Linked DNA regions of Homo sapiens. The protein of the gene in region 3 interacts with the protein of the main gene of each other region in a pairwise test. Each region holds a gene or a part of one and is shown on either strand. Other genes may lie near its edges.

The links. The genes of interacting proteins can lie anywhere in the genome.
Region 1: the proteins of RNF183 (region 3) and APBB2 interact in binary tests that used the Homo sapiens proteins (3 or more experiments, as listed by UniProt).
Region 2: the proteins of RNF183 (region 3) and SPRED1 interact in binary tests that used the Homo sapiens proteins (3 or more experiments, as listed by UniProt).

What each region holds. Positions count from the first base shown.
Region 1 is NC_000004.12:40,808,325-40,812,542, reverse strand, and holds the end of APBB2 (amyloid beta precursor protein binding family B member 2), read left to right. Parts: 3' UTR 1-2,516; downstream 2,517-4,218. Other genes in the region: putative methyltransferase NSUN7, read right to left, coding at 3,604-4,218. UniProt on the Homo sapiens protein: Plays a role in the maintenance of lens transparency, and may also play a role in muscle cell strength. Involved in hippocampal neurite branching and neuromuscular junction formation, as a result plays a role in spatial memory functioning.
Region 2 is NC_000015.10:38,346,836-38,355,037, forward strand, and holds part of SPRED1 (sprouty-related, EVH1 domain-containing protein 1), read left to right. Parts: intron 1-2,586; coding exon 2,587-2,688; intron 2,689-4,178; coding exon 4,179-4,829; 3' UTR 4,830-8,202. UniProt on the Homo sapiens protein: Tyrosine kinase substrate that inhibits growth-factor-mediated activation of MAP kinase. Negatively regulates hematopoiesis of bone marrow.
Region 3 is NC_000009.12:113,299,859-113,309,231, forward strand, and holds the start of RNF183 (E3 ubiquitin-protein ligase RNF183), read right to left. Parts: upstream 3,519-9,373; 5' UTR 3,198-3,518; intron 3,192-3,197; exon of another isoform or gene 2,456-3,191; 5' UTR 2,337-2,455; exon of another isoform or gene 1,894-2,336; 5' UTR 1,814-1,893; exon of another isoform or gene 1-1,813. UniProt on the Homo sapiens protein: Acts as an E3 ubiquitin ligase catalyzing the covalent attachment of ubiquitin moieties onto substrate proteins. Triggers apoptosis in response to prolonged ER stress by mediating the polyubiquitination and subsequent proteasomal degradation of BCL2L1.

The DNA.
Region 1 (4,218 bases), on a different chromosome or scaffold from region 3:
GCCAGGCTTAACCTAATACACATCTAACGTGTGTGCCACACGGCCAGTAGAAAGTTTAACTTCAGCTTCAGGGCAAAGATACCCACTCACACCGTGTCAACGCAAGCAGTAGTTCCTGGCCTCCAGAGCAGCTTACTTCCCCTGAAAGAACGCTTTGTTTTCCTTTATGCCCTTTTCCTGTTGACCACTTTTACACATTTAAATGTAATTTGTTGTGAGAATAAATTTAGCTGCATAAAACGTTCGGCTCATTTATCTGACATCTTAGTCACATATACAAGGAATAGAAATAGAAACTCGGTGTCTCTAGTTATTTTTAAATTATTCTTACCTCAGACTTCTTAGAAATCACTTTAGTAATGGAGCATTTTGCTTTGATTAGTTACTACATATTTCTGCCTGGTAAGAACTAGGAAGTAACTTCAAATTTTGAGTAATCACCCTGTACTTATTTGGTGATCAGGAAGGCCAGCTGGCCTTCCGGACATAGAAGCCTATTTAGTCACCAACTCGAGTCTTTTGTAAGCGGTCTTGCTAGGATTGTGATATTTTAGCACGAAGAAGTTTATCACTTCCTTTAAGAACCTGACATCAAAGAATAAAGAATAGAGGTGTACACACACTAAATCCAAAATGAAAGGTAACTAGAGAAATCAGTTGAATCTGGTTTAGCTTAACTGTTAGGCGCAGGAAGGCAGATAAACAGAATTTAAAGTATGTCCCCGCTTTTTGTTCATCTTGCACTTCCACAGTGGTTTCTCTCTAGTCAGTAACAAAATTTCATTATGGTTTCAGGCATTATATGGTGGTAAATAATTTCAGATTAAAAATGTGTTTGCTATTGGAGTATCTGAATACTAGTAATTTCATTATTTAGAATTTTGCAGCACTTTTATCTCAAGAAGAAGTCCAAGAATGTAAAATGCCAAATGAAACATGTCAGTGGAATCAATATTCTCCTTCATTAGAATTCCCTCATATTGCTTTTTTTTTTTTTCTTCAGACAGAGGAGTCTTACTCTGGAGTGCAGTGGTGTAATTTCAGCTCACCACAACCTCCACCTCCCAAGTTCAAGCAATTCTCGCCTCAGCCTCCTGAGTAGCTGGGATTACAGGCATGCACCGCCACGCCTGGCCAATTTGTATATTTTTAGTAGAGACAGGGTTTCGCCACGTTGGCCAGGCTGGTCTCGAACTCCTGACCTCAGGTGATCCGCCCGCCCCAACCTCCCAAAGTATGTGAGCCACCACGTCCGGCCTCATATTGCTTTTATCCAAAATTCTTTTCCCTTTTCACTCTACCAAAGTATTTAAATAATCCTGTCCTTCATAGAAGATTCTCAAAGAAGAAAACTGCAGTGTAATTAATGAATGGTTTAATTCAGAATCTTCATATACTTCTAAAGAGAAAAATAATTTAGTGCCAAATGCATGTTAGGAGATAATCAATGTAAGTGGCAACAAATTGTGACTTCACATGCTACTGTAGAGATCAGAAAATTATCCTAAACTATTCCATAACAATGAGACAACATCACAGAAAATACACTTGAAAATAAAAATCTCAAGACCAGCTACTTCTGGACAATGGAATACTTTTCAGTCTGGTATGGTGGAGGGCCCGAAAAGGATAAGGGATTCTTATGATACACAATGGGATTCTTTACTGAACAATATGTTAAATTAAGCTGCACCGCCTTCCTTGAGGCATGGACTACCCTAACCAACCAGATAGAAATCTGGGTGGGATAAGAGGATGAGCCACACGCTATAATTTTAGGGCAAGGAGATAGTGTTTGATTTTCAAAATCAGCAAAATAAGCTGAGCACTTTATATCTTTCTGTACAAGAGTGATAACATGAAGAATTCTTCTTCAGGGATTTAAAATACAATAAGCCTGGTTCAACTATAAAAAGTCTTGTTTCCTTTCTTCATTGACACTTTTTTTTTTTTTTTTTTTTTTTTGAGGCAAGGTCTCACTCTGCTTCCCAGGCTGGAGTGCAGTGGGGCAATATTGGCTCACTGCAACCTGCACCTCCTGGACTCAAGAGATCCTCGTACCTCAGCCTCCTAAGTAGCTGGGACTACAGGCGTGTCCCACCACACCCAGCTAATTTTTGTATTTTTTGTAGAGATGGGGTTTTGGGGTTTCGCCATGTTGTCCAGGCTCGTCTGGAACTCCGGTGCTCAAGTGGCGTGCCCACCTCAGCCTCCCAAACTGCTGAGATTACAGATGTGAGCCACTGCACCCAGCCCACTGACACGTTTTACTGATAAATGTAAATCTAAGCTAAAATAAAAATAATGTATTACCGCTATAATACAATTCACCATTCTCTTTTCTCACTTCAAGTAAGAAAGTAAAAATAGAATATCAGAGCTGAAGTAGACCTAAGTATTCATCTTGAAGAAGATAATATTCTAAAAATCATGCCACCTGAATTGAGCATTTAGGAATTTATGTAACATTTCTATACAACTGAATTGCAAAAATAAAACTTTAAATTCAAACTTTATGAATATGTCTATGAATGTTTTTAAATAATAAGATATATAGTTGTATCTTAATTCTATTTAATGACAATTTCTGTTGCCATGATGAAAAATCAGTAGACCCAGAAATGATAATCATACCAATTTTTGGTAGGCAATTGAGAATACATTCAAGATGAATCGACATTTAATATAATTAATTAACATAGTGCTACAATATATTTAATTGTGCCTCAGAAATGATTTACCAAAGTTTGATTCCTGTGTGCTATTTGAAATGACTTGTAGATTTTGTTGTATCCCCTGATCTTAGAATCAGAAATTTGTGGGTTTCTTCAACAATAGGTATCGCTTGCATTCAACAGTTTTGCCTCTTCTTCAGAATTATTAATATTTAGATGGAAATTTGCTCACAGTCTTTTGTAACAGTGCTTGACATAGAGGAAGGGAGAGATGATTGTGTCCAGTCTGCTCAGGATCCTGGAAGCTCCCCCAGTGAGAGACACCTCACTGTAAAAGGAACTCTGAGCTACACACACCTGGCACTTGGGAACTTCCTGCGCTTCCTACTTAAACTCAACTTCAGTCACGTTACAAAAACTCATGTTCATTCCCTGTTCAAAGAACAGCTTGATATTTAAGAAAAAATCACCCTTGATCGTGACTGAGAAAGTCACGACTACAACCGCATGGATGCTGAAGAGCGGTCAGCTGGCGGGAGAGGCCAGGATCGTTTGCCTGTTTGGCTTTCTAATGAGCTACCTGCTGAAGGGAGGCAGTGTTTCCTTCCCTGCAGGGGAAACTTGGCAGCTTTAAGTCCAGCCTGAAAGTTCACAGGAGTGAGATAAGTTCTGACCGCTGATACTGAGTCTCTAACTGGATCCTCTCAGAGCAGCAGTGATTGGCTGAAGTCTCTGAATTCTGCTTTGCTGACTCCTACATTATTGTTTCTCACTTGTCTGAATTCTCTGAAAGTAATATCACACTTAGAAGATCCCTAGGTGACCAAAAGAATGAATATCTTGTGTAGAGATGTAGAATCTTCAGAGAAATACTAGACTTTGAAAAAAAATCAACTGCTCTTTGGCCCCTATAAAAAACACAAGACAATCAAAGCCATCGCCGAGGAGGCCTGAGTAGGGAGGAAGGTGTGTCATCTTTAGGCTTTTCCTCTTTTCTGGATAGTGAGTGTGTGGGAAGGCAGGTGGGCACAAGTGCCTTGGGTGCAACCCAACGACAGTACAAATGTTGAGTTGGCATCCGAGATCTGATCCCTTGGGGACTTGAAAATGGCATAAAGACTGGAGGCAGAACAATCTTGATGGGTTTCAGAGCAACCATTCTGTCTTCTGGCCGAGGTCTTAAGAAGTGTGTCTGCCGTTCACGCGGTCTGGAGGGACAAGTGTTCTTCACAAATGCAGGCACTGCAGGATGGGGGGCCAGCTTGTTGGGTTTTCTGGTCTGTGAGGAAGCCCCCACTTGAGCAGTATTTTTCTGGGGAAGAGGTGGTTTTGTTACAGTCTCTGATAGATTAGCACTGGCTTTAGTTTCTCGATTCAGGAACTCAGCAATTTTCATTTGGATGCCATTATCAGTAGTGGCACCTTTTGTCAATGATGTTTTTGATTTTTTCTTCTTCTTCTCCCGTTTTGATGATTTACCCAACTCAATCCCATCCAGCAGACCCTTGGCTGCAGCTCGGGCCAAAACATCATTCACAGACAC
Region 2 (8,202 bases), on a different chromosome or scaffold from region 3:
CCTACAGGGGATATGTATTGAGTATTTGAAAGACTTCGGAAATAACTGTGATTGTTCCTTTACAAATGGATTTTAACTGCATGCTTTCATATGGCCTTGTTACTAGGTAATCAAATGTTCTGTGTTACTTCCCTGTATATTCTGGATTCAGATCTTTCTGAGTTTTATTTGTGGCTAGTATCTCCTAGTTGGTGATTATTTTTCACTCTTTGTGGTGTTTTGGTGAGCAGACATTATAAATTTTAATGCAGTTGAATTTATCATTTCTCATTATTTTTACAGACTCTTCCCTATCCTCATCTTAAAGATTTTCTTCCTAATCTAAAAGTTTTAAAGTTTTGTCTTTAATCCACTTTAATTTGATTTCTCTTCTATGGTAGGGACCAAATTTTATTTTTTCCACATAGGTTACTAATTGTCCCCGCACTGTTTATTGGAGCCTTTCCCCGCACTGATATGCAGTACCATATCTGACACATCAATTCTCTATATATGTTTGAGTCTGTTTCTGATGTCTCTAATCTAAATTAGTGTCACATTGTCATCTTTACTGTAGAAATGCTGTAGCTCTATAATAACTTAATATTTGTAGAGAAAGTGCCTAACTTTGTTTTCCCGCTTGGATCTTTTTTTTTTTTTTTTTTTTTTTTCAATTTGGCTGTTTGCCCTTTTAAAATATTTAGAATCAGCTTGTCAAATCTGATGAAGAATCCTTTTGTGGTTTATATTTGAATTGCGCTGAATGTGTGTGTTAGTTTAGGGGATAATTTATCATCTTATTCGTGAATATGATATATACCTCTGTTTAGCTCTTCTTCTGTATCTTTACATAAAACTTTGTATTTTCTTTGTGAAAAGATAATACATATTTTATAGGATTATTTCTTTGTACCATTTTTGTTGTTCTATTATAAATGGAATCCTTTTAAAATTTTAATTGTGACCAGCTTTGAAGAAGCATCTCTTATGACTTTTTCAGCTGATAAATTTTCCTGAAGATTATAGCAAAAGTACCAAATTTTGAGGGTATTAAAAAGCAGAAATTAATTGGGGTGTATCTTATCACATCTGTTTTTAGTAAGTGTGAAAAGGTCAATATTGTCCATTTATTTGTCTTTTCACTTAGAGATTGTGTGAGAGAACTAATATTCATAGACCCTGTTGACTCAGGTAGTTTTCAAAGTGTGTATGTGTTTAAGTGGTGTGTGTGACTTTTTTCTGAGACAGTGGTGAGAAAATTGACATTTTTACTCTTTAGAATAGTTCTTAGAAATGTATATTTAATATACTAGTTGAGGTCATTGTGTTCTATCAGGAAAAAAAATTGTTCTCTCTGCTTCCTTTTGTGTAATGTTCTTCTGTTTTTCTTTTTTTCACTTGACCAAATATCTAGCTTATTCTGTGTTTACTTCAAGTCGCATTTCCTTTCATGCCTTCCCAGACCATTTAATCCATAGTTATTTCCTCTTGTTAATTTCTAAATTCTTACAGATTCTACTTATAAACATAGAATGGCCTCCATATTGTATCATTAAATGCAGAGACCAAGGGCACAGTACAAAGGGTCCTATTTTAAAGATCTGTGTGTGTGTGTGTGTGTGTGTCTGTGTGTGTAAAAATTTTTGGAGGAATGCACTAAAAAATTTTTTTTATGATAGTTAACTTTTAAAACTGGGTCTGAAAGGTCTAAGATGGAAGGAAGAGTTTTACTTCATGTGCTTTTATACTATTTGAAAATTTTGCTATCTGCATGTATTACTATTTATTTTCAGGGTTATAGTGTTTATTAAGTATGTAACAGTAGGAGTTGGCTCAAAATTATCTGGAAAAATAAGAAGTAAACAAGATTGCCAAAATGTTGATGATAAGTGAAGCTAGATAATAGACCCATGGTGATTCATAACATTATTCTCTCCTTTTATGTATATTAGAATTTTTCACCATAAAATTTTAAAAATTAAACATTGATATATTCTAGCTATAATTTAGGTCTGAAATGGGCTTTGCAATTCGAAACACTTGTAAATGTATCAGGACACTAAAGATTCCTATTTTTTTATTGCTATATAATTCACCTACCACAAAATCATCCTTTAAAAAAGTATGTAATTTGGTGGTTTTTATTATATTCACAAGATTGTGCAGCCATCAGCAGTATCAAATTCCATATCACTTCCCAAAAAACCCACACTGATTATCAGTCATTGCCCCTCCTTCCCTATTCCCAGCCCCTGGCAACCATTATTGTGACATGTGTAACTACTTTATTTCTCTTTGTGGTTGAATAATATTCCACTCTATGGATTTACTACATTTTGTTTATCCGTTCATTAGTTGATGAATATTTGGGTTGTTTGTACTTTTTTGACTATGTATTCATTACTTGTTAAAGTTTAAATATGTAAGAAAAGACCTATGGTTTTTGTTTGTGTTTTAGGTGGGGGGAAATGATTCTATTTTTATTCTCAAAACCGTTTTTGAAAAACTTTACTGCTAATAAATTATGAGGTTTTGGAACATACACTGTACAGTTTCATTAAAAGTAAAATTCTTGTGTCATTTAAGTAGAAATTGTTTGTATTTTAGATAACATTTGGTCAGCCAGGCTTGGACATTCAGAGCAGAAGTATGGAATACGTACAGCGGCAAATATCCAAGGAATGTGGAAGCCTAAAGTCCCAAAATAGGGTAAGTAATGTTAGTTTATCTTGTGATATGGAATTTAACTAATTAATAGATAGGTAAAGTTTTCCAGTCTTTCTAATTCTCCATATAGTTGAATTGTACTAGAAAATTTTTCATTGTATAAATTTGCTGCCTATGTGCTTAAACGCTGTTAGTTAAAAACTCTGCAAACTTCTCATTTGAGTCTAAAAGATTGCCAGAGCTGCATTTATTAGATAGGACCAAAAGGAATTATATATTGTTAATTAAATAAACTGTATCTGTCACCCCACCTTTAGCTCAGACCTAGAATTTTCTTAGCCCTAATTCCATGTATCTAGGAAATAGAAGTTTGCCCCAAACTGAGTCAGATGCTTACTTGTAGTAGACTAGTCACTGTGTCCAGGGACTGGAGCTAAAGATACAAATTTGTCTACTTAGAAGCCTGCATTTATGGATGATGTAAGGGGTCAAAAGACTTAATTTTGTTCTTTGGCCTCAAAGAACCAACCTTCCCAGAAGGGTTGTGGAAGTAGGGGTATTTTACGTCATTGTTCAGAGACTTTTTGTGTACCCAAGCTACACACATGTGTGTCTTTGTATTAATTTGCTAGGACTCCCACAACAAAATATTACAGACTGGGTAGCTTCAACAACAGAAATTTATTTTCTCACAATTCTTAGAAGTTCAAGATCAAGGTTGTTGGTAGGTTTGGTTTCTTCTGAGGCCTTTCTTCTTGGCTTGCAGGTAGCTGCCCTCACATGGTCTTTCCTCACTTTGCCCTCACATGCTCTTTCCTCTGCCCGTACATCCCTGGTGTCTTTCTCTGTGTGTCCAAATTTCCTCATAAAGAAAACAGTCAGATTGGATTAAAGTCTCTCTTAAGGGCCACATTTTAACTTAGTCACCTCTTAAAAGGCTCTATATCCAAATACAGTCGCATTACTGGAGGTTAGGGCTTCAGCATATGAATTTGAAGAGGACATAAGTCAGACCATAACATTTTGTCCTTTGTTCCCAAAATCATGCCCTTCTCACTTGCAAAATACATTCATCCTTATCCTAACAGCCCCAAAGACATAACCCATTCCAGCATCAACTCTTAAGTCCCAAATCTCATCTAAATAACGTCTTTCAATCAAGTGTGGGTAAGTGGCTCATGCAATAGTAGAGGTACAGATCCAAAACAGGGTAGGCTGTCTGGAGACCCAAGAAATAGTTGTAGTCTGAGTCCAAAGGCACCCTGCTGGCAGAATTTCTTCTTGCTCAGGGGGAGCTCAGTCTTAGTTCTAGTAAAGCCTTCAACTGATTTTATGAGGTCCGCCTATACCACAGAAGGTACTGTGCTTTCCTCATAGTCCACCAACTGAAATGTTGATCTCATCCCAAAAACATATCATAGAAATGTCCAGAATAATATTTCAACAAATATCTGGACACTGGCCCCACCAAGGTGACACGTAAAATTAACCATCATAGCCCTCATTGCAGTTTTTATCTGTTTCTTTTTTAGGTCCCTTTGAAATCAATCAGACATGTCAGCTTTCAAGATGAGGATGAGATTGTCAGAATAAACCCTCGAGATATCTTAATACGTCGCTATGCAGACTACAGACATCCTGACATGTGGAAAAATGACTTGGAAAGAGATGATGCTGATTCCAGTATTCAGTTTTCTAAACCAGACAGTAAAAAATCAGACTATCTGTACTCTTGTGGGGATGAGACTAAGTTAAGTTCACCCAAAGACTCTGTGGTATTTAAGACGCAGCCTTCCTCATTAAAAATTAAGAAGTCAAAACGAAGAAAAGAGGATGGTGAACGTTCTCGCTGCGTATACTGCCAGGAAAGGTTTAATCATGAAGAAAATGTTAGGGGAAAATGTCAGGATGCTCCAGACCCTATTAAAAGATGCATATATCAAGTTAGTTGCATGCTCTGTGCAGAGAGCATGTTGTATCATTGTATGTCAGACTCAGAGGGAGATTTTTCTGATCCCTGTTCGTGTGACACTAGCGACGACAAGTTCTGCTTGCGATGGTTAGCCCTGGTAGCTTTGTCTTTCATTGTACCATGTATGTGCTGCTACGTCCCTTTGAGAATGTGCCATCGCTGTGGTGAGGCATGTGGTTGCTGTGGTGGGAAACATAAAGCTGCTGGATGAAATGGTCCAGTGCCAAAATGAGCTTAAAATCTTTGTTTCCAGGAATTAGCTAACTTGGATTTGTGGAAGCTTTTGGCAAGCAATATGGAATCTTGCCTGGTATCATTGAGCCCACACATGGAGGAAGCAGAACTCATCAGTTCTTGGCGTTTCACGCCATGCCTAACTTTTCCCTTGAGTGCATGGCATGTTTTGTTACAGGTTGTAGAGTATTTGCAGAAGGAAACCATTTCTGGTTATTTGGCTATAAAAAGTCAGCATAAAATATGATCCAACTAAAAGGGATTAATTTTTGGCATTTTTGTATATTTATGCATTAGGTGATGGGACTTTTAAAGGTTTGAATTTATTAGGACACGAACTAAAAATAAAAGTGCACTAGGGGACAGTTGATTTCAATCTAAGAAAAGTTAACACTTGGGAATTACAAGAAGTAAAACAAGTGCAACTAAATCATTTATTAGTTGTTTTTTGAAAGCAGTTTTATGTATAAATAACAAATGTTTATATTTAACTAAATGTAAGGTACGAATTATTACATATTAAACTTTTCTTCCCCTTCCTAGTTCTGAAGTAGATATATATATATATATATCTACTGTCACATTCCATATATTTTGAATATTTAACTCATCTAGTTAATAATGTTTTTATTCCATGCGAATGATTTGATATTTTCATCCTTATTTCTCTTTGGCTACAATTTATATTGAGTTATATCTGTACATTCTGGTAATCTAAAATCCTTAAAAATACTCTAATAGCCTTGAGTGACCAACTTTTTTTTTAAAGCACAGATGTAATTGTCTAATGTTCTGATGGGAACGTAACACTTATTTTTATATAAAAAGAGACTGAGTAAACAAACATTATAGAAAAAAAGTGAAGTTTTTTAGTTGTTTTTTGTGGTATTCAACCAGCAAGTTGTTTTCTTTCAGAGTTTCCTCCTTCAAAAAGTTATATTGCATTTACAAATGTTTTACAAGGCAGAAAGTTTGACTGGATAGTTAGTGTAAAAGCTTCATGTTGAGATCTTCACGTATCATTCTGCTAAACCAGAATATGTTCAGCTGTGTTACTAATTTTTCAGCTTAATCCTCAGTGCTTATTATTTACATAACAATAACTTTTTATCAGTTACATTTTATTTTTATTTAAACTGGCCAAAAGCAAAATTATTTTATGTTAAAATGTGTGCTAAACTATCCCAGGAAAGTATTTAATCCAACATTGTAAATGAAGTATCTTGTACATATAAATTTATTTCTTTTGCAGAGCATTATATTACTGGATGTTTAATTTACAAAATAGTTGGGTAAATGTTCCAACAAACTTTAAAGTACCTTGAAGTCAAATTGTCTGTTTTTGTTTTGTTGTTGTTGTTGTTGTTTTCTTAAGTGTTACATTAAAACTCTAACCAAGGAAAGGGTTCTTTAAGAACATTCCCTTAGAGGGATAAAGTTGAGAAGTGTGCCTTTTTTTTAATGGCTTGAAGTTTCAGAGGTGATAAAAATTAAAATCACACTACTATTTGAAGCTCATTTTCTATGCAGGTTTTTAAACGTCATTTATGTATCATTCTTTTTATATATCACACTTAAGCTTGTGTTAGCTTTTTTCTTTTGCCCCAGATCAAACTGAACAATGTATATAACACTATCTGTCTGTAAAATACTTTTTTTAAGAAAGCATTTATATTTATATGACAGCTTGAACTGACAACATTGTGTATATAGATCATCTTGAAGTATTATTTCACATTGAAAAGAAGAAAATATATTGATAACTATAGATGTTATGAAGAAGAGGGTATTTCTAGTTTTGTACTAAAAATCAATTGGATGAACTAAATCCAAAACATGACACTGTAGGCAGCAGTTTTAAGTCTTATTTTTACTGTTTATATATTTGAATGCTGCTACAACAGATGATCTTCATCCCTGAAGTTTTCAGCTAAACTTGGTTTCCTAGAATAGACTGTTAACTTTCAAAATTTTTATTGGTGAAATGGAAATACTGTTTTTCCTTGTGAATGAATTTTCATATTTGTAAGTGCTAAGTTTATAATTCAGGTTTGATCAAGGTGTGAATAACTGAAGAAAATAACTTGCTGGCTATATAGGAAAATGCTGTGGAAATGAACTGTGTATATACTTCTGGGAGGAACAAATTTAATCATTTCTTCTGTTAAGCACTAATCAGTATAGTGCAACTCCTGGTTCTGTACTGTATTTTATATGCAACATATATGCTTTAATATTTTAATGTTTGTGCATTAATATTTTCAATTTGTTTAACCACTTTGCTGCTAAGATTTTGCCGTCCCATTCCCATTTTTTCCTTTACAATTTTAAACAAGTTTCTTCATTAAAAACTATGGTGATGAAATGGTTTTTATTTTACCTTGGATCTTTATAGTTAACATACCCAGTTTCTTAATCAGTCTACAAGACTAACTGATGATATAATGTTCTCTGAATCCCTATATGGAAATTTTCTTTTGAGTAAATGAGAATTCCTTTGTGAAAGCAAATGGGTAGTTTAAATCACTGATTCTTAAACATGTGTATAGGCACCTTCAGGAACATTTTCTCATTCTCTGTACAGATTCGGCACTGCCAATTGGCTTTTCCTCTAAAACTTTTCTTTGTTTTTATCTGATATAAGCAGATGGCTCAAGACAACTGCTTGAGTAATAGTATTGAAAATGGAATCATCTAGACGGCATGACAAGCAAGACTGGTCTGATGAACTTGTTCAGAATTGATAATTCTTAAATATTTCTCTTGGCTTCAAAAGGGACATCATTTGATTTCTGAAGAAGTATGTCGTGTGGAGCTTCAGCACCACCTACTGGATGATTTCCAGGCCAGAGACATGAGATGGCAATAGGGATCTGACAGGGTTCATCACTACTACCATTAAAGGGCTATTTATGTGGTGACCACCTCTACCAGGGAAACCAGGAATAAGAACTGTCTCAAAGGAATTGTAAAATGGTTATTTACCTAATGTGTCTTGTTGGCTTGCTGAAAGATTTTAAGCACTTTTTTCTTACATATCCTGTTTTAAAATATTTGTTGATATTTGGGACTGGCAATCAAACTTAATGGATGTACTGAGGCATTTATAGAACCAGTTGCTTTAACTCTCAAAAGCCATTACCAAAATGGTATTTTTTTCCTCCTTCCGCCAGTCAGGGAGAATTTTTAAAAATAATAATCAAAACATGAAAAAACATAATCACACCTGTATTTTATCATGACAGCTTCAGAGAGTGTGTGTGTACGTTTTTCTCTCTTTTATTTGAGACGGAGTTTCACTCTTGTTGCCCAGGCTGGAGTGCAATGGTGCGATCTCAGCTCACTGCAAC
Region 3 (9,373 bases):
AAGTCACCCAGCTAGTTAATGGTGACATGGGACCCATGTCTTCAGACTCATGGTTTTCGTAAAGACAGAAGGCTGCATCCATGCCGTCCCCCTACTCAGTGCGTGTTACTAGCTAGATAATAAGTGTTTGCATGTGATCAGGAATCCTTCACGGCCAGAAGACTCATGGTAGAAATCCAGGAACTGTGGAAGAGGGGATCTGGGGGAAGGGAGTCTCCCTAGAGCCCCTGATATGACATCATCTACCCCGACTGAGCCGATGTCTGAAGCAAAACCTGCTTATACTCTCGGACCTGTGGCTTCCTGGTTTTCTTCTAGACCTCTGGCACTGCTCCAAACAGGGAAGGAGGAAATGAAGATATGCAGAGGGAGATGGAGCCCTAAGCGAAACTAGGGTAGTTTAGCAGGGCTCTGCACCAGTGCTTTATTCTGCAGTCCATTCATCCACTCGGACATTATTGAGTGCTTACTCTAGCCCAGGTGCTGTGCAAGGTATTATGGTGAACAAAATAGACATTGTCTTTGACCTCATGACATTTAGAGTGTAGTGAGGCAAAAAGACATTTAATGAATAATGGGCAATAAATAAATACACAATTTTAATGGTTGTTAATAAAGGGCAAAAAGGAAAATGGGCTTCGGGTGCTTGGTGGCTGCTCCCAATGAGACCACCAGAGAAGGTTTCTGCAAAGAGATGACAGAAGAGCTGAGACCAAAGTATATAGGAATCCAGCCACGCACAGTGGAGGAAGAGCGTTGCAGGCCCAGGGAACAGCATGTGTGGCCCCGAGGTGAGAAAAGCTCTTCCAATTTGAGAAAGTGAAAGGAGCCCAGGGTGATCAAGGTGTGGTGACCGGAGTAGGCAAGGTGGGAGGGTATAGTACTCGGGACCTGTGAACTCAGGAGCTCATCTGGATTTTATTCCAGGGGTGAGCGGTAGGGTAAGGTACCTGATCCTATTTCCATTTTTAAAACACCATTCTAGCTGCAGAGCAGAGGACAGGCTGAGAGGGATAAGATCGGGAAGGGAACACCCGTTCGGGCTGCAGCAGTGTGGCTCAGGCGTGTGATGGTGGTGCAGGTTAGGCAGTGGCAGAGGAGATAAAAGGGGATGGGATAAGTGATATCTTTGGGGACAGAATCAAAGCCACTTCCCAAGAAGCAGTGGAGTTCTAGGGATCCAGTTGTAGTTTCTGTCAAGGTTCATGATGCCAGATCCATGGCTATTTAGGGCTGTGATTCCAGTTGAATTGCTTGACCTCTCTGTGCCTCTATTTCTCCTTGTGCAAAGGAAGCCAAAACTAGTAAAGCTTTTAGTTAGAGCCCAGCACCCAGTAAAGACCACAAAGCAATGCATGACCTAAAAATGGGACTATGTTCTCAGAAACACATCGTTGTATGAACAGCACAGAGAGTATTTACACAAACCTAGATGGTAGAGCCTGCTACATGCCTAGGCTATACGGTCTAGCCTGTTGCTCCTAGGCTACAAACCCATACAGCTTATTATGTTCTGAACACTGTAGGCAATTGTAACACAATGATAATTGCGTGTGTCTTTCAACATAAACTTAGAAAAGGCAAGGTAAATATATGGTATTATAATCTTAGGTGGCCACCATCACATATGTAATTCACTGTTGATCAAAACATTGTTATGGATATATGAGGCAGTTGAAATTATTAATGCAAATGGATTTGAGAGAAAGGAAGGGTCAAGGTTGATTTCAAAGCCGTGACAAAGTCCTCTGCATCAAGCTTTGAGAAGCCCCTGAATCCCAGAGTGTGTTAGAAGCAGATCTTTAATACTTACCAGAGGCCGTAAACTGTATGTAACCTTGACTCATCATTTCCCCCACTGGGAATCGATTCCACGGAAACCATCAAGGACTTCTGCAAAGATGTGAGTAAAGAGATGCCCATCCAGGCGCTGGTTTAACGGTGACGTATGGAGAACTACGTCATCATCCAGTAATAGGACATTGATTAAGTAGATTCTGCTCCATCCATAGGAAGAGATATTATGCAGCCTTTAATATGATGTGGTAAAACTATTAATATGGATATATACCTAGGATATAATGTCATTAAGCGAAAAAGAACCAGCAACAAAACCATATTACCATATAATCCAATTTCCAAAAGTGTGTGTGCAATGGAAAAAATGTCTGGAGAGATAAACAACCAGATATTAGCAGTGGTTATCTCTGGGGGCAAGATTATAAGTTTTTTTTTTTTTTTTAATTCTCTTACCTGAAAATTCTAACTTTACTCCATCCAGTAAGCTTGTATTACTACACGTCAAGATCTCCTGTTTCCCCCCAAATCAGACCTACCTTCTCTGAAGTTCCATGGCCAGAACTGTAAAAGGCTGTCCAAGAGGAGGAAGCATCATTATTGCCTGGATCTTTATCTGTGCTGCTCTCCCAGGGATCCACTGCTGTTTCAGGATCAGCTGGGGAGAGATTCTGGCCATGTATCACCTCCACCCCAAGCCAGGACATCTCAGCTACAGTAAATCCTAAACACCGCCCCAAAGTCATCTCCTTGGTCTATGAACAAGTCATCGCCAAATATCAATTGTCCCCAGCATCACTCCATTGTTTTCAACCAAGAACTGGCATTTCCATAGCACTTCACAGTTTACAAAGGGCCCTGGCCCTTGCTAAGATCTAAGTGTGGTGATCCATCTAGATAGGTTACTAGCCTTTTGGGATTTTTTGTTGTTGTTTGCAGAAAGCCATTTGATACTCTAAAACCACCCTGTGAGAGAGGCTGAATGGGGAGTAGAAAGGTGCCGGCTTTGGAACCAGATTTGGAACAATTTGTCTTGGACAAATGGCTTAACCTCTCTGAACTTCATTTTCCTCTGTAAAAAAGGCTAATCATCCCACTCCTACAAGGTTGCTCTGGGGAAGGAATAGTCTATACGGTGCCCAGTAGAATACGGAAGGCGCTCAATACAGAGTTAGCATGATTATTTTTAGACCCATTTTCTAGATGGGGAAGCCAAGGCTCAGAAGGGTGAGGCAACTTGCCGAAGTCTTCCCAGCTAAAGAGTGGCTGAGTTTGAAAGATGAACCCAGTAGCCTGCCCTCCCAGGCCAGAGTTCACCTGTCGCGCGCTGCACGGCTGCTGCCTCTCTGGACTCTGGAGCCCTGTGACCCGTCCCTCCGCGACCCTCTCTGTCTCCTTACCTGCTCCCTCGGAGCCGCCTCCTCCGCCTCCGTTCGTGCAGCCCTGCACGCATGTGCTTTGTTTTCTGACTTCCCAGGCCCGATTTCCAGGTAGCGTGGGTGGGTCTTATTTGCATAGGTCTTAGCAGCGTTTGGCCAGCTCTCGCTGTTTCAGGTTTTCTTCTTCCTTCTGGTGACTTTGGACCTCCTGTACACCCTGGAAGCTTTGGTTGCTTTGTCTTTCTCCTGTGAGTCACTCTGGCTTTTTCTCTGAGGGGATCAAGTGCGCTCATCCTTGCAGGCCTCTGTTCTGGGTCCGATTGATCTCCTGCCATCCCCTCGGATTCCACTGTCCTCTGTGCGCTGACCTGCCTCGACTCCTGGCTTCTGCCGAGATGGATCCTTCCCTATGCTGAGTCCCTGTAACCAAAATACAGATAGCTCTTGCAAAATACTGACAAAAGCGGCCACTAATACAGCAGAAAAATAGTCGGGAGACGGTTGAGCGTCTGCCTGAAGAGCCAGGGTTCTCAAGCAAGGCACACTTCTAGGTCAGAGTTCAGCCCTCACTGAGAATCCAAACTCCGTTTAACTACCGATGGAGACTTGAGCAAATTAATTAACTTCTGCCAGCCTCAGTTTCCTCACCTGAAAATGGCCATAATAACCTACCTACTTGATCTGTAGATTAAATGAGGTAATACGTGTCGAGATCGCGTAATAACACAGGGCCTGGCAGACAGTAACTCGCTAAATGTTAACCAGAACTATTATTGTTATAACCGGTCTGTTCACGTGGCCCATCTTTTGTTCCCGCTCAAATTCTTTTTGTACCTATGGTCCTCTTTTCTTTCTCTCTCTCTTTCTTTCTTTTTTTTTTTCTTTCTTTTTTTTTTTTTTTTTTAAGACGTAGTTTTGCTCTGTCGCCCAGGCTAGAGTGCAGTGGGGCGATACTGGCTCACTGTAACCCCCACCTCCCTGGTTCCAGCAATTCTCCTGCCACGGCCTCCCGAGTAACTGGGACTACAGGTGCGCGCTACCATGCCCGGCTAATTTTTACATTCTTAGTAGAGACAGGATTTCGCCTTGTTGGCCAGGCTGGTCTCAAACTCCTGACCTCAGGTGATCCACCTGCCTCGACCTCCCAAAGTGCTGAGATTACAGGCATGAGCCACCGCGCCTGGCCCCTTATTTCTTTACTGACATTTTCAGCCATACTTGAGAAATAAACAAGTAAATAAATGTATCTGCTTGGTGATGTAATCAAATGCCCTAGTCCCCGCATTTTGTGTTTTTTTACATTAATTTTTATGTATTGATTTATTTTGAGACAGAGTCTCACTCTATCATCCAGGCTGGGGTGCGGTGGCACGATCACAGCTCACTGCAGCCTCAACCTCCTGGGGTCAAGCAGTCTTCCCACCTCCGCCTCCTGAGTACCTAGGACTACAGGTGCATGCCACCGTGGCTGGCTAATTTTTGTATTTCTTGTAGAGATGGGGTTTCTCCAGGTTGCCTAGGCTGGTCTCAAACTCCTGGGCTCCAGCAATCCACTTGCCAAAAGTGCTAAGATTACACTTGAGCCACCGTGCCCACATTTGATTTTTAAATAGGTAATATATTTACATGGTTGAGCATGTGAATGGTTTGATTTCACAGTGAAAACTGTCTCTTCGCAGCCACCTAGTTTCCCTGGAAATCAAAGTATTATACTATCAGTTTGTTGTGTATCTTTCCAAAGATGTTTTATACATACACAAACAGCATGTCCATGGCAAAACATCTATGTATTCCTTTACCTCCTTTTTACACAAATGTGCATATTATGTACACTGTTCTGCATTTTTCTTTTTTCATTTGATGATGTATTTGAGATATCATTCTGTATTAGTACATAAAGACCTTCTTCGGTTTTTGGCCCAGCGCTGTGACTCACACCTGTAATCCCAGCACTTTGGGAGGCCAAGGCGGGTGGATCACTTGAGGTCAGGAGTTCAAGACCAGCCTGGCCAACATGGTGAAACCCCGTCTCTACTAAAAATACAAAAATTAGCCGGCGTCATGGTGCACACCTGTAGTCCCAGCTACTCAGGAGGCTGAGGCAGGAGAATCGCTTGAACCTGGGAGGCAGAGGTTGCAGTGAGCTGAGATTGTACCACTGCACTCCAGCCTGGGCGACAGAGCAAAAAAAAAAAAAGAAGACCTTCTTCGGTTTTTTAATGGTTGTATCAGATTTCATTGAATGGCTGTACCATAAATCACTTCACCAATCCCCTATTGATCTAACCCCCTCATTATAAATATATAAATATTGAATGAAAGAATAATGCAAAAATGCTGATTTTAAGTTAGCCTAGAATTGTGTGAAAATAAAACTGTGGACTTTGGGAAGTTTTAGATCTCTAAAGAAAATGTCTAAGTAATTCTCCTCTTTCTGAGCTGGAGACGAGGTATATGATCACCGATGGCCTCAAAGTTCCTCTCAGCTCTGGAATTCCCTGCTTTTCGGTGTCACTACTGGTTAACTGAGGTTACTGGGGATTCGAGACACTGATTTAGTCCAAAGAACCTGGTTTGTATTTGAGAGTTTGGAAGTCACGCTTTCTGGCTTGGCAACATAAGAAAACATAAAGAAGTTCATCTACTTTGACCTAATCATGTAATTCCCCAGAAGCATCAAAAAGATATATTTTGGTTGAGTGAGGATATTCATTGCAGTTTTATTTTAATCACAAATGATTGAAAACACTCCAAAACCCCATCAATTAGGTGAAAAACTACATAATCATTTAAAATGATATAGAAAGATTTTCATTGACTTTTAAAAATGGTCACAGTATACTGTAAATGGAGGGGGAAAGCAGCTTAAAAATGGTGCATGTTGGCCGGATACGGTGGCTTACGCCTGTAATCCCAGCACTTTGGGAGGCCGAGGCAGGCGGATCACAAGGTCAGGAGTTTGAGACCAGCCTGGCCAATATGTTGAAACCCCGTCTCTACTAAAAAATACAAAAAAAAAAAAAACTTAGCTGGGCGTGGTGGCAGGTGCCTGTAATCCCAGCTACTTGGGAGGCTAAGGAGGCAGGAGAATCGCTTGAACCTGGGAGGCGGAGGTTGCAGTGAGCCGAGATTGCACCACTGCATTCCAGCCCAGGCAACAGAGAGAGAATCCATCTCAAAAAAAACACAAACAAACAAACCAAAACCAAAACAAAACAAAACAAAAAAACGGTGCATGTTGGCTGGGCACATGCCTATAATCCCAGCACTTTGGGAGGCCGAGGTTGGAGGATTGCTTGAGCCCAGGAGTTCAAGACTAGCGACCCCATTGCTACAAAAAATAAAAAAATAAAAAATTAGCTGGGCGTGGTGGCACATGCCTGTTGTCTCAGATACTCAGAAGGCTGAAGTGGGAGGATCACTTGAGCCCAGAAAGTCAAGGCTGCAGTGAGCCCAGATTGCACCACTGCACTCTAGCCTGGGCAACAGAGCAAAGACCCTGTGAAAGATAGAAAAGAAAAAAAGAAAGAAAAGAAGAAAAGAGAGGGAGAAGGAAGGAAGGAAAGAAGAAGGAAGGAAGGGAGGGAGGGAGGAAGAAAGGAAGGGAGGGAAGGAGGAAGGAAGGAAGGGAGGGAGGGAGGGAGGGGAAGGAAAAGAAAAGAAAAGGAAAGAAAGAGAGAATGTAGCATAAGCCAGATTTTGTAAAGCATAATTTATGTATAAAGACTGCAAGACCATGAGGCAAAATGTCACAATTTTATCTCTGGGTGATGGCCACTCATGTTTTCGCTTTCTTCTTGCTTACATTTTCCAAGTTCTCAAATATGTATTACTTTTGTAGTAAGAAAGTTCACTTAGAAAGTAAGTTAAGTCTGAGTTTTCTGCAACCAGGGTATCCAGAACTTAAAAAGATAAGCAGGTAGGGCAGGTAAGAAGTCAGTCATGACATTGTAAGCATTGAAATAAAAATAAAATAAGTCATAGCCAGGCATGGCCTGTAATCCCAGCACTTTGGGAGGCCGAGGCAGGCAGATCACTTGAGGTCAGGAGTTCGAGGCCAGCCTGGCCAACATGGTGAAACCCCGTCTCTACTAAAAATACAGAAATTAGCCAGGCATGGTGGTGGGTGCCTGTAATCCCAGCTACTCTGCAGGCTGAGGCAGGAGAATCACTTGAACCTAGGAGGCGGAGGTTGCAGTGGGCCGAGATCGCGCCATTGCACTCCAGCCTGGGCGACAAGAGCGAAACTCTGTCTCAGAAAAATAAAATAAAATTTAAAAAGTCATGGCTTTTTTCCAGGTCACTAATTGTCTAGTGAGTCTATGCATTATCATAATGTCTGTGGGTGGTCAGGCTAAGGAGTGCTTTGCCAACAGTGAAAAATTTTTCCAGGGAGATACCCGGGAGAGATAGTGAGGCATCTCAGGAACTTGAGAGTTAAACTAATTTATAAAGTTCATGCTTGTGGGGGCAAGATCAGCCATCTGGAAAAGCACCTCACCTAAGCAGTACCTTAGACCCGGGTGAGTGAAGAGTCATGAGACTCGGTGGAGCCCAGCCAATGTCTGGAGCAGAGGCGTGGGGTGGTTTTAACTCATCTGGGAAGGAAGAGGTGGCAGAGGGCAGAAGGATGGAGAAAAGGTGATGAGTGCAGCAGGTTTAGAATCCGGCATGGTCAGTGTTTAGCAGGCCCCAGTCAAGGGCAGAGGGCAACTCTCCCTAGGGGGCCACCATGTCATCATCACTCAGAGCCTTGCCTGAGGCTTGTCTAGCATTTAGGACAGTTCCGGCAGCATAGGCATCACTTAGAGATTGTTAGAAATGCAAAATCTGGCCGGGCATGGTGGCTAACACCTGTAATCCTGGCTCTTTGGGAAGCTGAGGCAGGCAGATCCCTTGGGGTCAGGAGTTCGAGACTAGCCTGGGCAACATGGTGAAACCCCATCTGTACTAAAAATACAAAAATCAGCTGGGTGTGGTAATGGACACCTGTAATCCCAGCTACTCGGGAGGCTGAAGCAGGAGAATCGCTTGAACCTGGGAGGTGGAGATTGCAGTGAGCCAAAATTGTGCCATTGCACTCCAGCCTGGGCAACAGAGCGAGACTACGTCTCAAAAAAAAAAAAAAAAAAAAAAAAAGAAAGAAAGAAAGAAAGAAAGAAAGAAAGAAAGAAAAACAGAAATGCAAAATCTCAGACCCACTCCAGACCTACGGAGGCAGAATTTGCATTTTTACGAGATCCCTGGGAGATTCAGAGACACATTCATTACAAGTGAAGAGTACTGATTTAGGAGACATACCTCCAGTATATACTCCTTGATGCCTTCTGATTATATTCAGCTTCAGATTCATAAAGGCTCCCAAGGACCTGACACCTTAGGCAGGGCAACGTGAATCCCAGCCTGGGGATGGGCACCCCCGGCCTCTGCTGTGTGCAGCATCTGAATTTGCTTTCCAAGTCACAATCCCTTATTCAAAACATTTGGTTCCAAGTGTGTTTCAGAATTCAGAATTTTTCATAATTTTAGGAAGGTAAGATGATGCATTTGCCAACTCTCCCAATTCTCCCAGTGGGATCTGGGGCAGTACCCTATATTCAAACATTGATATCTTGCAGCTTATTATGAATATTGACACCGAAAAGAATAAACATCACAAGATCAGGTAAGTTTTGGCACCAAATTTAATGGAAAACCTTAGTTTTCAGGCTGGGTGCGGTGGCTCACACCTGTAATCCCAGCACTTTGGGAGGCTGAGGCGGGTGGATAACAGGGTCGGGAGTGCGAAACCAGCCTGGCCAATATGATGAAACCCTGTCTCTACTAAAAATACAAAAATTAGCCAGGCGTGGTGGCACGTGCCTGTAATCCCAGCTACTCAGGGGTCTAAGGCAGGAGAATTGCTTGAATCTGGGAGGTGGAGGTTGCCGTGAGCCGAGATCGTGCTACTGCACTCCAGCCTGGGCAACAGGGCGAGGCTCTGTTGCAAAAAAAAAAAAAAAAAGACAGCAAATAAACTCACCTAAAACTTTAGACACAGAGATAATTGCCCACACATTTGGATTATAGCTTTTGTCTCTCTTTACATTTTAAATATATATTTTATATATTTTAAAATAATATATATACTTTATATAATTTCATATAAAATGTCACACTGTATGTAGTTTTCTAGCCTCTGTTTTTCACTTTTCATC